Homo sapiens: one gene and its partner. The protein of the gene in region 1 purifies or fractionates together with the protein of each later gene. This does not show direct contact. Each region holds a gene or a part of one and is shown in the gene's direction. Other genes may lie near its edges. The genes, in order: NMNAT2 and FBXO45.

Evidence for each region.
Region 2: the proteins of NMNAT2 (region 1) and FBXO45 purify together in Homo sapiens (co-immunoprecipitation; 3 studies listed by BioGRID and IntAct, with this or other methods). This does not show direct contact.

Annotation. Positions count from the first base shown.
Region 1 is NC_000001.11:183,289,157-183,296,433, reverse strand, and holds part of NMNAT2 (nicotinamide/nicotinic acid mononucleotide adenylyltransferase 2), read left to right. Parts: intron 1-2,640; coding exon 2,641-2,729; intron 2,730-3,576; coding exon 3,577-3,644; intron 3,645-6,227; coding exon 6,228-6,306; intron 6,307-7,277.
Region 2 is NC_000003.12:196,571,561-196,578,837, forward strand, and holds part of FBXO45 (F-box/SPRY domain-containing protein 1), read left to right. Parts: intron 1-5,892; coding exon 5,893-6,249; intron 6,250-7,277. UniProt on the Homo sapiens protein: Component of E3 ubiquitin ligase complex consisting of FBXO45, MYCBP2 and SKP1. Functions in substrate recognition but also plays an important role in assembly of the complex.

The DNA of each region.
Region 1 (7,277 bases):
CATTCATTCCTGGTAGGAATATAAAATGGCACAACCACTTTGGAAGACAATTTGACAGCCTCTTAAAAAGCTAAACATAATCTTACCATATGATTCATATGGCTCCTTGTGTAGATTCCCTAATTTACGTCTTCACAAAAACCTGCACATGAATGTCATATCAGCTTTATTTATAATCACTAAAAACTGGAAGCAGCAAAGATGTTCTTTGGTAGATGAATGGATAAACTGAAGTACTTCCAGACAATAGACTATCATTTAGTGATTAAAAGAAATGAGCTGCCGGCCGGGCGCGGTGGCTCACGCCTGTAATCCCAGCACTTTGGGAGGCCGTGGCAGGCGGATCTCCTGAGGTCAGGAGTTTGAGACCAGTTTGGCTAACATAGTGAAACCCCATCTCTACTAAAAATACAAAAAATTAGCTGGGCATGGTGGTAGGCGCCTGTAATCCCAACTACTTGGGAGGCTGAGGCAGGAGAATCGCTTAAGCCCGGGAGGCGGAGGTTGCAGTGAGCTGAGATGGCGCCACTGCACTCCAGCTTAGGGGACAAGAGCGAGACTTCCTCTCAAAGAAAAAGAAAGAAATGAGCTATCGAGCCATGAAAAGACATGGAGGAACTTTAAATGCATACTGCTTAGTGAAAACAGCAAGTCCAAAGAGGGTACATACTGTATGATTCCAACCATATGGCATTTTGGAAACGTCAAATCTATAGAAAAAGTAAACAGAACCGTGGTTGCCAGGGGTTTGGGAAAAGAGGAGGCATGAATGGGTGGAACACTGAATTTTTAGGGGATGAAAATACTGGGTATGATACTATAATGAAGGATACAATTGTCAAAACCCACAGAACTCTACAACACAGAGTAAATCTTAATGTAAACTATTGACTATAGTTAATAATGTGTTAATAATGATTTGTCAAGTATAACAAGTGTGCCACACTAGTGCAAAATTATTAATATAATGGGGGAAACTGCATGAAGGGAGGTAAAAAGGTGGGAGGGGTCTGAATATATGGAAGTCTATGTACAATCTGCTCAATTATTCTGTAAATCTAAAACGGTGTTACAAATAGTCTATTCATTTTTTTTTTAATCTAAGAAATTTCACATTGAAAGAAAAAGAAGCAGCCAAGTGCCGTGGCTCATGCCTGTAACCCTTGCATTTTGGGAGGCCAAGGCAGGCAGATCACTTGAGGCCGGGAGTTTGAGGCCAGCCTGGCCGACACGTGGAACCCGTCTCTACTAAAAATACAAAAATTAGCCAACCATGGTGGCTCATGCCTGTAATCTCAGCTACTTGGGAGGCTGAGGCATGAGAATTGCTTGAACCCAGGAGGTAGAGGTGGCAGTGAGCCAAGATCGCACCACTGCACTGCAGCCTAAGTGACAGCGTGAGACTTTGTCTCAAAAAACAAAGAAAGAAAGAAAAAGAAGCAAATATGGTGAGATCTTTTTTCAAGTGTTAAGAAATCCAGCAAAGTAATTCTGAAAACTTGCTTGTAAACTACACAGCCAGCTTTGCTGCCCAGGCCGCCTTCTACTTAAAAATTCCTTCACTATAAACTCCATGCTAGATTTTTCCTCAGTGGAATAAGCTCAGGCCCTGTTGACAATTTTTGTTTTGTTTTGTTTTGTTTTTAGATGGAGTCTCCCTCTGTCACCCAGGCTGGAGTGCAGTGGCACGATCTCAGCTCACTGCAATCTCTGCTGCCCGGGTTCAAGCGATTCTCCTGCCTCAGTCTCCCGAGTAACTAGGATTACAGGCGCCTGCCACCGCGTCTGGCTAAGTTTTGTATTTTTAGTAGAAAAGGGTTTCACCATGTTGGCCAGGCTGGTCTTGAACTCCTGACCTTGTGATCCACCTGCCTCGGCCTCCCAAAGTACTGGGATTACAGGTGTGAGCCACCACACCCGGCCCCTGTTGACATTCTTAAAAGGAATTGTTTTGGAAGTAAGATAGAACCAGACTTTTCAGTCCCTTCCTTGTTTGCCGAAATTTATTGCGAAAATAAAATTGGGTTTGTCTGATAGATTTGAAAAAGCAATATTGCATACCTTCCAAAGGATAAAAGGCTTTTATCTGGCCAAATTTTTCGTCTCAACCAAGTCTAAGATGGTGGTCTTCTGGGTTGATTGCTAATTCTTTGTAATTATCTACAAGGCCCTTTAAATTTGTTTTGGTGGTTTTTCTCTTCTGAATAATTAGATGAGGCAATCAGCACATCTTTCATATTATAAGGAGGCTTTTATTTATTTATTTTTTAAATACTACTCCTCCACATTATAACTCCTGCAAGTGACAATAGGGGTAAATTCCAATCTGTAGCTCTAATGGCTGCTAATGAGGCGCTTGTTTTAAATCCTTCTGAGCTACACTGGCTCCTCCCACAGAGGACTTTTAAAACAGGATGAATCTCCTTGAGTTCTAAATCCTTTTGCTTTGGGGGCTGAAATCTGGTTCTGTAACCTTTTGAATCACCAACATTTGCTTTGAAAGTTGACATTTTCTATTTAAATGGCAAGAGAGATGGGAAATAAACCCCAGCATTACAGAGCTGAGCGTATTGATTTCAATTATCACCTTTAATCCATGCCTTTCCTCTTTATAATGTGTGGGTTTCTTCTCTTAATTAGAAAGAGCCAGGGATTATCTGCACAAAACTGGAAGGTTTATTGTGATTGGCGGGATTGTCTCCCCTGTCCACGACTCCTATGGAAAACAGGTGGGTTCCTTCCTGTGCCCCTCTCCTCTTCAATCCCCGTCCCCCCATCCCTGGCCTGATAGTTCCTGGCAGAAAAACTGCCCCCGCTCTGTCTCTGCTAAGATTCCTGGAAACACAAAATGCCCAGGTCCATGCGTCTATCCTGCTTCCCATCTCAGGACCACAGTCGGACCTGAGTGGATGGGCGTTGAAGCAGTAGCTGGAAAGACCAGCTGTCCATGACCGTAGAGCCACTTACGGGCTGGTCAGGACTCACTGAAAGAGGAGCAGAAACACCCACTGGGTGTGGCTTGGTATGGTGGATGCCAGATTGGCAGCTGGTTATGGGTTGAGCTGCACTGGGCAAGTCTTCTCAGGATTTTAGGAGAAAACGGCCTATGCCTTTTATAATCTGATTTAAAATTCATATCCCTGCTCATCCCTCCCTGCCACGTGTCCCGGCAAATCTAGGAGCTCCACCCATCATTCCCCCTTTCTCCCACAGATGCACCTTGGTGGGCTCTGGGGAAACTCACCTAACCAGCCAGACTGAGCCATAAGACAAGGCCACATTTGCTGAGTTAAGTCTCATCTCTGCAGGGCACACAGGGGCTGCTTCGCAAATGGAGGCTCATCTATCGACCTTGTTGGGGTGGTATATACCACACACCCTTTATTTGTTTCCTTTCCCACCACCATTCCAGGCCTGCCTGTGTGGCAAACGGACAAGTAAAGGGGTCACATTCTTCATTCCCTCTCACCACTGAAAAATGGCTGCACTTTAACAATGGGTGGGCTTGGGCTGGTATCCCAAGGATGTTGTGGGGAACGGAGGGAGTCTCCCAATGATTGCTCTGTTGCTTCCCAGGGCCTCGTGTCAAGCCGGCACCGTCTCATCATGTGTCAGCTGGCCGTCCAGAATTCTGATTGGATCAGGTAGGACTGGCCTGAAGATGCCAGAGGCAGTGGCCCGGAGACTTACTGGGAGTGGGGTGGGGAAAAAAGAAGAGTTCCAGCAGTAATTTGGATCCTGAAAGGATGGGGAGGCAGGGGCAAGATATTAGCCTTGTGGAGGCAATAAGTAGACCTCCAGGGATACCTATAACTTTATTTTTGAACCAAACTGTGAGGCCCATGAATGTAAAGAATGTGCTTGAATGTTTCATCTGCTTTGACATCTCTGAATCCTGGCATGATTCTTGGAGCTTCCAGAAATATCACTGGGTTTTGGGTGAAGCATGACCAGAAAATCAGAAATGCCTCTCACTTTCATTCCCACTAACTTCCGCGAACCCTCACTACCTTTCAGGGAATGTTCCCTCACCTTGACAATTTCCCATTCCTGAACTCAGGCTCCCTAAGGGCCCCACACTGGCCCCAGGAGACAGGTGCGGGCCTGCCCCTAAGGGCAGCCACACCAAATCACACCCACTGGGTGGCTTTCCTGCTCACTGCCTTTCTGGCCAGACGTGCTGCTAGGAAGGCACCTCCACCCACCTCCGCTGAGCTTGCAGTGTAATTAAAGCAAGCTTCCACTAATTATGCTAATGATGTTCCCCAAAGTTCTTACCGTTATAATTTGCATGATAAGATGATGTTTTAAAAAAATAATGGCATGCCATTTGTGCTGTAATTTCCCCCACTATGGAAAAATAAGCAGCACCTAGAGGTTTCCATGAAAGGGGCGAAGTGACGGGATGCTGACCTCAGAATGAGGAATGCAGAGAGTTTGCCCAGGAAGAGCGGGGTGGGCGGGAATGAGAGCAGTGAAGGGAAGCCACAGTAATAATTCAGCAGTGATCCTTGCTATTTGTGCGCAGTGATTTGTGTGAGAAGCACATGCCCTTTATAGACTTTCTTATCCCCCTAAAGATAAAGCTTAGGTAGAGAGACAGCTGCTTTTTCTCAGGTGAGAAACAGGCCCAGAGAAATGAAAGGGCTTGAGCAATGATACATTGATACACCCGTAGGCAAGAAAGGATTAGAAATGAGGCCTCTTAACATTGTAAGTCCTGATCTTCTGGGGATGCTGGGGACCTTGAATAAGGGTCCAGTGAGGAAATCACTGGGCAGGAGACTGTTACTGCTTGGATGTGCTTAGAAGATTCTGGAATAATTCCCTCATGCATTCCACAACTATCTACTGAGTGCCTACCACCTTCCCTGGGCTGCTCTAAGTTGGAAAATCAGAATCCTGAGAATTGAGATCACTAGGGAGTCTAAGAGCTGCCTCTAGAGATGGGGTTGGCTGGGGTGGGGCGCCTGACACTGGGATCCCATTTAGCCAGGTGAAGTGTTTGTTTCCGGCACAGGTGCGCTCCCAGGGCACAGGGCCTGGCTAGGGATCTAGGGGGAGCCAGGGTCCCGGCAAATGGCAAGCTGACTCTCTAAGGGTTTTCAGCTAGTGGGATCTCATCTCTGGGCACTTTAGGCATGTGTATGTGGTGGGGTGGTGGGGTAGGGTGGTGGTGTTAAGGGGATGCATGACTGCTAAGAAAATGTTAGACAAGGCAGGGCACGGGGGCTCATGCTTGTAATCCCAGCACTTTGGGAGGCCGAAGTGGGCGGATCACCTGAGGTCAGGAGTTTGAGACCAGCCTGGACAATGTGGTGAAACCCCATCTCTGCTAAAAATACAAAAATTAACTGGGCATGGTGGCATGTGCCTGTAGTCTCAGCTACTCAGGAGGCTGAGGCAGGAGAATCACTTGAACCCAGGAGATGGAGGTTGCAGTGAGCCGAGGTCTTGCCACTGCACTCCAGCCTGGGTGACAGACCAAGACTCTGTCTAAAAAAAAATCATTAAGTTGGCAATTAAGCCCCAGTGCTGCCTCAGTCTGGGGCTGGATCCCTGCTTACGTCACAAGCAGTATCCCGGAGGGGCTGGCCATTGTTGTGTCTGCGCCCTCTCATCTGACTGTCATGTCTCACCTCCACGCCCACAAGGCACCTCACTGCAGAGGGAGGCAGGGAAGACTGATTCTCGAGGGTTTGCAGCCTGGCAAGGATAACCTGGGCCACCACTTGACAAAGGCCTGGCTCAGCTAATCCTTGTCACAATCCTCAAGGGTCCAAAGGAGGGTTTATTTTGCAGGTAACAATAAGAGCAAGATGCTGTACTGAGCATTGTACACATAAAACTTACCGAGCCTTTCTAACAAAACTGTAAGCTCGTTACTATTGTTATTCCCATTTTACAGATGGGGAAGGTGAGGCACTGGGAGATCACATAACTTTCCCAAAGCCACACAGTTGCAAAGAGCTGAGGCTGGAATTAAACCCAGGCAGACTGGCACCAGCATCTCTTCTCATAAGCCTATGCCATGCTCCTCTCATTTTACAGAGGAGGAAACTGAAGCTCAGAAGAGTGTTTCACACCCAGGTTTTATCTGATTCAAGATCTAAGCGCATGGTATGGCCAGATCTGCCATGCTTCCTGAGCTATGATTTTTGGAAGGTAACAATAAGGAAAGAATATGAGAACAGAAACCAAGGGAAACTTCTTTCCGATGATGTTAGGGTGGACCCTTGGGAGTGCTACCAGGACACCTGGCAGACGACCTGCAGCGTGTTGGAACACCACCGGGACCTCATGAAGGTGAGCTGGGCCAAGCCTGGGGATGCGTGAACCACCAGAGTGCAAGGGCGGAAGGGGCTGGACCCACAGAAACCAGGCAGGGAGAGGAGAGGGTGCTGCTGGCCTATCGACCTGCTTTCAGCCTCTTATTTCTCTGCCGGTTGTGAGAGAGACCAGCCTGTGAACAGCATGAAGAACAATGAATGAGGAACCCCGAGTAGCACCAGGGTCTGTTCCCTGTCTTCCACCCTCTGTCTTGACCTCCCATTTGGGGTGTTGCTGCTGGGTATGGTGGGCAGCTTTTATTAGCTGGGAGCAAGTTCAAGGTGGGATTAAGGAGACCACAGTGATAGGACTTCAGAAAGTGAGGGAGGAGGAAACTGGACAATGAAAGGCAGGAGAAGAGAGAAGCACTTAGGGGAGGTACAAGCAGCCTGTGGGGGCCCCACTGGCCCCCTTACTCCAGGACAGGCTGCTGTGGCTGGGGCACTTCACACCTGCCAGTCATTGCACCCCATTCCCACCCATTCCTCCTCACAAGAGCCCCACAGGCAGATGGTGTCTGATGCCTGTTTTATTAGTGGGTAAAAGGGATCACAGAGAGGAGTCCACATATCTGAGCACACACAGTGAGTGTTTGGTGAACACAGATAGGCGAGAGCTTCTGTATTCCCCATTGGGGCCTGGGGCCTGTGGCCGGGCTGCAGAGACTTCAGGGCTGGTTGCCAGGTTAGAATGGGCTCCATACCAGCCAGCAGCACTGGCCAGAGTGTGCAGAAAGCACCCTTCCCAGATCAGTGCCAACCCATCCACTCCACAGTGACAGGATGAAAAGCAATGCCACCGATGGCGAGAAGCCTGACCAACCAAGACAGCAAACAGTCAATTCTGCTCGCCTCCACGGACTCTGCAGCAGAGCCCTCCGCAGCCCCAGATAGCAGTCCACCTGGCACTGCCCTCCTACAGGGAGAGCCCATGTCCCATCTGTGTCC
Region 2 (7,277 bases), on another chromosome or scaffold:
AATAGAAATGTTCACATGATTCAAGATTCATATTATAATATGTAATAGATAATGTGTTCGTGTGAGTCAAGCTTCAATAGAAGCAAAATGATATCAAGCAAAATGTTTTCCTTTCATCCTTGTCGCTCAGCTACCCGGTTCCTCTCCATGTATGCAACCTGTCTTACTTTTTCTTTTGTATCCTTCCAGAGATATTTTAGGTTTCTGAGGTTTTTAATACTTTGCTTTTCTGCTATGTGCATTATAGATGTTGTAGACTTGTACCAATCACTGTTCATTCACACATTGTAGGACTTCCCTTGAATATTTTGAGGATAAAAGATTAATTCAAAAGGAGTCAAATAGTCTAGTAGGAAATCTTTCAGTCTAGTAGAGGAGAGAAAAATGTATAGAAAGAACTGCTAATGTGTGGTAGAAATTGCTCCTTACTGTTACAGACATAAAAAAGTATACTAGAAGTTCAGTGAAAGGAGGAATTTACAAACTGAGTGGAGGATTGGAGGAGATTTGAGGTTGAGCTTATATTTGAGCTGAATTTTAAAGATGAGGAGGAGTTTAGTATTTTAGGAAGAGGAAGTACTCTGAGCAGAAGCAGGACAAGAGGAAAGTAAAGGGTTTGTACAACATATATTTTTATTTAAAAAAATGAGTGCCAGGCACTATGCTCATTTGCAGATGCAATGGCAAATAAAACAAACACAGTCTCTTAATGGATGTCTTGCCTTATGGAGCTTACAGTCTAGTAGGGGAAATGGATATTAATCAAATAATCACACAGATGTAAAACCGCATCTGGTAAGTAGTATGAAGGAAAAATACCTAGTGCTCTGATTGTCAGTAGTGGAGGATTTAACCTGGTGGAGAGGTGAGGGAAGGCTTTCTCAGATCCATGTACTGAGACCTGAAGGATGATAAGTAGGCAAAGGGGAGAGAGAACAGCCTTCCAGGAGGGAACCTTATGAGTGTGAGGGATGGAAAATATGTCAATGTGGCTGGAGCACAGAGAGCAAAGGTGATGCTGGTTTGAGATAAGATGGAAGAAGTGGACTGGGACCAAAGCGTAGGGAAGCCATTTTGAGTTGTAAGCAAGAAGGATTTGAGGTGTGGGGATTGGTGATATGATTATTTTGCATTTTAAGAGATTATTTCTGACTTTAGTATGGAGAACTAAATTGTTGGTTGGAAGAGGACCTTAGAAATATGGTAGATCAATTAGGAAATAGGTAGTGGAGGAGATAGAAATGGGCAGATTTAGTAAGTAAAATCTATAGAATTGGCAATAGATTTGAAATAGGGATGAGGAAGAGGGAAGTGGTAAGGATGACTCCTAGTATTTGGCTCACATAATGTAGAGATCAGTTGATCTAGATTTTTTTTTTGAGATGAGGTCTTGCTCTGTTGCCCTGGCTGGAGTGCAGTGGAATGATCATAGCTCACTGCAGCCTTGAACTCCTGGGCTCAAGCGATCCTCCCACTTCAGCCTTCTGTGTGGCTGGGACTACAGGCATGTGCCACCATGCCCAGCTAATTTTTATTATTATTTTTTTTTGTAGAGATGTCTCATTATGTTGCCCAGGCTGGTGGGCTAGGTTTCGAAGAAATGGCAGTGAGTTCAGTTTTGGGAGAGCAGCATTTACAGTATTTTTGAGACAGAGATTTCCAATAGGCAGCTGTTGGAGGTTGGAGCTTAGAGGAGAGATCTGCGCTAAAGATATAAAATAATATAGTTAGATTGAATGAAAGGAAGTAGTGGGAAATATTATAAAGCTATATTATGGGACTAGATATATCATGGAGGGCTTTGAAATATAGCCTTCAGTCTATAGTTTGGGTTTTGTACTACAGTTGTAAACCATAGAAGTTTGAACAGCAGAGTGACAAAGGCTCTACTTCAAAAAGACTAGGCCATAGATGAGTTGGAGAGGGCAGCGGTTAGTGCCTATACCAGAGATACTTAAGACTGGAACAGGTACATCGAGGAGAGAAGGGGATGGCTGGAGAGCTGTCGTAGAAAACAATATACATAGGTAGACAGCTGACTGGGTGAATGGGATGAGGAAGATGGATGTGTCAAATGGATTTTCCCAGGAGCCTGGATAACAGAGAATGATAGGAAAAGGTTTAGGGATAGCATAGAACAGGAAAGTGGAGTTTATTAATCTGTTCAGTTGTTTTTTTTTTAAGTTCATATTTTACATATCACCCCGTAGCATTAATTATTTAAGTCATACTTGGCATCTGATGAGAATTCTCTAAAGTTCAGACTTAGATTTTAAGCTAGGTCTTCATGCTGCTTTTGCCATAACAAAATTCAGGTTGTGCATGGGAATGTGAGGCTATGGGTTGTTTTTAATTTATTAATTTGGTCTTTATTTTCCTTTTTTTTTTTTTTTTTGAGACAGAGTCTTGCTCTGTTGCCCAGGCTGGAGCGCAGTGGCACAATTTCAGCTCACTGCAACCTCTGCTTCCTGGGTTCAAGTGATTCTGCCTCAGCCTCCCAAGTAGCTTGGATTACAGGAGCCTGCCACTACGTCCAGCTAATTTTTGTATTTTTAGTAGAGACAGGCTTTCACCATGTTGGCCAGGACGGTCTCGATTTCTTGACCTCGTGATCCGCCTGCCTCGGCCTCCTGAAGTGCTGGGATTATAGGTGTGAGCCACCATGCCCGGCCTATTTTCCCATTTCATATGAAGTTTCCAGTATCTGTTTCTAAAAAGTAAAGACACTTAATGTAATCACAATATGGTTATCACATCTAAATATAAATGTACATTAATTCCTTAATATCAAAAATGCAGTGTTCAAATTGCCAGTTGTCTCATAAATGTTAAATGTTGCATTTTAAAGTTATATTTTATATAATCAAGATCTATATAAGGGTCCCATGGCAAAGGTTGATATGTCTCTTAAGGCTATTTTAGTCTACATATTCACTCACCATCTCCCCAACCTCCCACCTTATTTGTTGAGGAAACAAGGTGGTTTACTCTCAGCTCGATTTTGCGGATTTCATTATCATCGTGTTGCTTGACATGTTCTTCTGTCCTCTATTTCCTACTGAGGTGTGATCAATTTAGATTAGATTAGATTTTTTTTGCAAGTTATTTTGTACTAGACTCAGTGGTTAAAAGTGTGTTAGAAAATAAGAGCTGCTAAATTGTTACGTGGCACAGAAAGTGGTGGGCAAGCACCCGGCAGAGAGAGACATCAAGGGAATTGGGTGGCCCTGGTTAAGAATAGCTTAATAGAGGTGATCTTAGAGAATGTGTGGGAGAAGAAAGCACATATAATACTTTCAGCAAGAAGAACATCATCAAGGTAGAAAGGGAAATAGGAAGAATCAGATTTGGAGGGCTGTGAAAGCCAGGCAGAAGAATTTGCAGTTGGTGATGCTACTAAGTATGGAACTACCAGAGGTTATAGAACTGGGATGAGATATGTAGTAAAGGTGCTGTTTTAGAAAGACAGGTTTGGAAATAATTCAGATAGAGAGTTGAGGACTGAGTTTGGAGAATTTGGTTGGGGCAGAGGAAGGGTGGTCACCAAAAAAGGAAATGATACAGGATCAGTTCAGGGAAATAGGAAGATGTCATAGAAGTTTGAGGAAGAGAGGGCCGGGCGTGGTGGCTCACGCCTGTAATCCCAGCACTTGCGGAGGCCAAGGCAGGCGGATCACCTGAGGTCAGGAGTTTGAGACCAGCCTGGCCAACATGGTGAAACCCTGTCTCTATTCAAAATTCAAAAATTAGCCGGGTGTGGTGGTGCACGTCTGTAATCCCAGCTACTCGGGGGAGGCTGAGACAGGAGAATCGCTTGAACCCAGGAGGCAGAGGTTGCAGTGAGCTGAGATTGAGCCACTGCACTCCAGCTTGGGTGACAGAGTGAGACTCTGTCTCAAAAAAAAAAAAAAAGAAAAGGAAGTTTAAGGAAGAGGTTGTCAATAGTGTCAATGTGAAATTGGAATTTATAAGAATTGGGGAGTAGGCATAGGGAAATATTAATTAAATATTTTATAGTGAATTATTGATATTATTCTCTTGAGTTATTTAGACAGTATTTGCTATTTTGGGGACATGTTCCTTCCCCATTTAATCTTCTTTTCCTTTCTTTTCTTTGTTTCTTTTTTTTTTTTTGAGACAGGGTCTCACTTTGTCACCCAGGCTGGAGTGCAGTGGTGTGATTTTGGCTCACTGCATCCTCTGCCTCCTGGGCTCAAGCATTCCTTCTGCCTCAGCCTCCCAAGTAGCTGGGATTACAAGCGTGCACTGCCACGCCCAGCTAATTTTTTGTATTTTTACTAGAGTTGGGGTTTCGCCATGTTGCCCAGGCTAGTCTTGAACTCCGAGTTCAGGCGATTTGCCCACCTTGCCTTCCCAAAGTGCTGGGATTGCAGGGGTGAGCCACCGCGCCCGGCCCCTTCATTGAATCTTACGTTTTGGTCTTATAAGTGCCTTAAAGTATTTTATAATACGAGCAGATAGGAAAAACATTGGGAATGCCTCAGTTTTATTGTGAATGCATGGGATACTGGAAACAAATAGTTCTCTGTTTTTAAATCTGCGCTCTGCAGCTCACTGAAACGGTAGAGTGCCAGCGAATGGTAAACGAACAGGTGGTGAGGGGACTGGATCCTTGATCTCTCTTTGGGCCTCTTGCACTAACTCGCGGTTGAAATCCCTGAGAAGGACTAGGTGACCTTTAAGGGTCTTCCTAAATGCTGACATTCTATGCCTCTGGAGTTGATTTTTCTCAGGTTAGCTGAAGCATAGGTCCCAGCCTTCCACTGCTTTGGGTAGTTTGACTAAAGTAGAGAAGGGATTTTTTAAAAACATACTAGCCAGGCAGGCGTAGTGACTCGAACCTGTAACCCCAGCTACTCGGAAGACTGAGATGGGAGTATCACTTGAGCCAAGGAGTTCAAGGCTGCAGTGCGCTACGATTGTGCCACTGCACTGCAGTCTGGGTGACAGAGTGAGACGTTGTCTAAAAAAAATTTAAAATACACAAACTAAAAGTTTAAAATTGTTTATGAGAAATTGTTATTGTTTGTATAGAAGAGCTATTTTCATACCCTCTTTATTTTGGAAGTGTAAACCTTTGTATTTACTGAAGAGTCAACTAACTTGTCTTATTGATAGCTTCTCTTCATAAATTCTAGTAGTTGAACCTAGATGCTATCTAAGGGATTATTTGATTTGGTAAAATGAGATTGGTGATTTTTTTATTGTGTAAGTCATATCCAGCAAGTAGGCTGAGGATCTAAGGTAGTTTGTGTTTACTAAAATTTTTCATAAACTTTAGAGCTGCTAGGATTAAAGTTTCTGTTTTATGTAAAATATAATTCTTTTTGATGACAGCATTGCCCATATGAAAACTGTACATCTCAACTTTTTGGTATAAAAATATCAAATATAAACAAAAGTAGAGAAAATAGTTTGATGAACTTCCTTATACCCATCACCAAGCTTTGCCAATGATTAATTTATGGCCAGTCTAGTTTCATGTTTCTATTGCACACTCTCCCACTCCATCTCTGGATATTTCAAAGCAATTCCCAGATACCATTATTTTATCCATAAACGTTTCAGTATTATCTGTAAGATATAAGGATTTTTCTTTTTTGTATCTTTTGATGTTTTAAGAAGTCTGTTTGAGGAAATACTACAATTTAAAATTTTGGTCAGTGATGAAACGGTTGGCATTTATTTTTTAATGTTATTTATTCTGTTAGTATTCCATCCTGAAACTTCAGCCATTATTTGGAAATACTTGTGTTATTTTAAAATATATAACTTCGTTATTTAAAAACATACAGCGTGAAGTTTGGGTAATTTTTAATATTTAAGAAAAATAAAATTGTTATTTATTTGGTCTGTTTTTCATCTTTTTAGATACGTGCTTTTCAACATGCCTTCAGCACTAATGACTGCTCCAGGAATGTCTACATTAAGAAGAATGGCTTTACTTTACATCGAAACCCCATTGCTCAGAGCACTGATGGTGCAAGGACCAAGATTGGTTTCAGTGAGGGCCGCCATGCATGGGAAGTGTGGTGGGAGGGCCCTCTGGGCACTGTGGCAGTGATTGGAATTGCCACAAAACGGGCCCCCATGCAGTGCCAAGGTTATGTGGCATTGCTGGGCAGTGATGACCAGAGCTGGGGCTGGAATCTGGTGGACAATAATCTACTACATAATGGAGAAGTCAATGGCAGTTTTCCACAGTGCAACAACGCACCAAAATATCAGGTGAGAAACTGGGGTTTTTCTCAAGTATGGGCCTTTGTCAAATCACGCCTTAATTTGTTTTAAATTTACAAATTTTTATATAGCAGTTTTTGTCTTTTTGGTAATTTTTATTTTTATTATTTTTTTATTTTTTCAGATACCCAGACTTCAAGGAGATTTTTTTTTTTTAATGTTAGGGGGTTATAGTTAATTTTGTTGGGTGTTATATTTTGATTTTGGCTATGCAGAAAAATATTCTTTTTTTTTTTTTAGACAGAATCTCACTCCGTTGCCCAGGCTAGAGTGCAGTGGCGCCAACTCGGCTCACTGCAACCTGCACCTCCCAGGTTCAAGCAATTCTCTGCCTCAGCCTCAGTAGTTGGGATTACAGGCGCCCACCACCATGCCTGGCTAATTTTTGTATTTTTAGTAGAGACAGGGTTTCACCATCTTGGCCAGGCTGGTCTTGAACTCCTAACCTCGTGATTCACCTGCCTTGGCCTCCCAAAGTGCTGGGATTACAGGCGTGAGCCACCATGCCCAGCCTCAAGGAGATTTTTTGACCATTTTTAAATAAATGTATAAATGATCTATCTCAATATTTGTTTCCTAATACAACTTTAAGCAGCCTATTTTTGCTCCAGATCAGGGGTTGGCAAACTTTTTGTAAGGGCCACGTAGTAAATCTTTAAGTCTTTGCAGTCCATATGGTCTCTGTCACAACTTTTTTTTTTTAATGTCATTTTCAAGGTAAGGATCTATCACGAGTTTCAACTCTATTTATAGTACAAAAGCAGTCATCGATAATACGTAAATGAACGAACATGGCTGTATTCCATAGACCTTATTTATGGGCTGCAGGACAGATTTGGTCCAGGGGCTGTAGTTTGCCAGTTCATGCTCTATATCAAGCTTGTCCAACCCACAGCCTGCATGCAGCCCAAGATGGCTTTGATTGTGACCCAATGCAAATTCATAAACTTTCTTAAAACATTATGAGATTTTTTTGCAATTTTTTTTTTTAAAGCTGATTAGCTATCTTTAGTGTT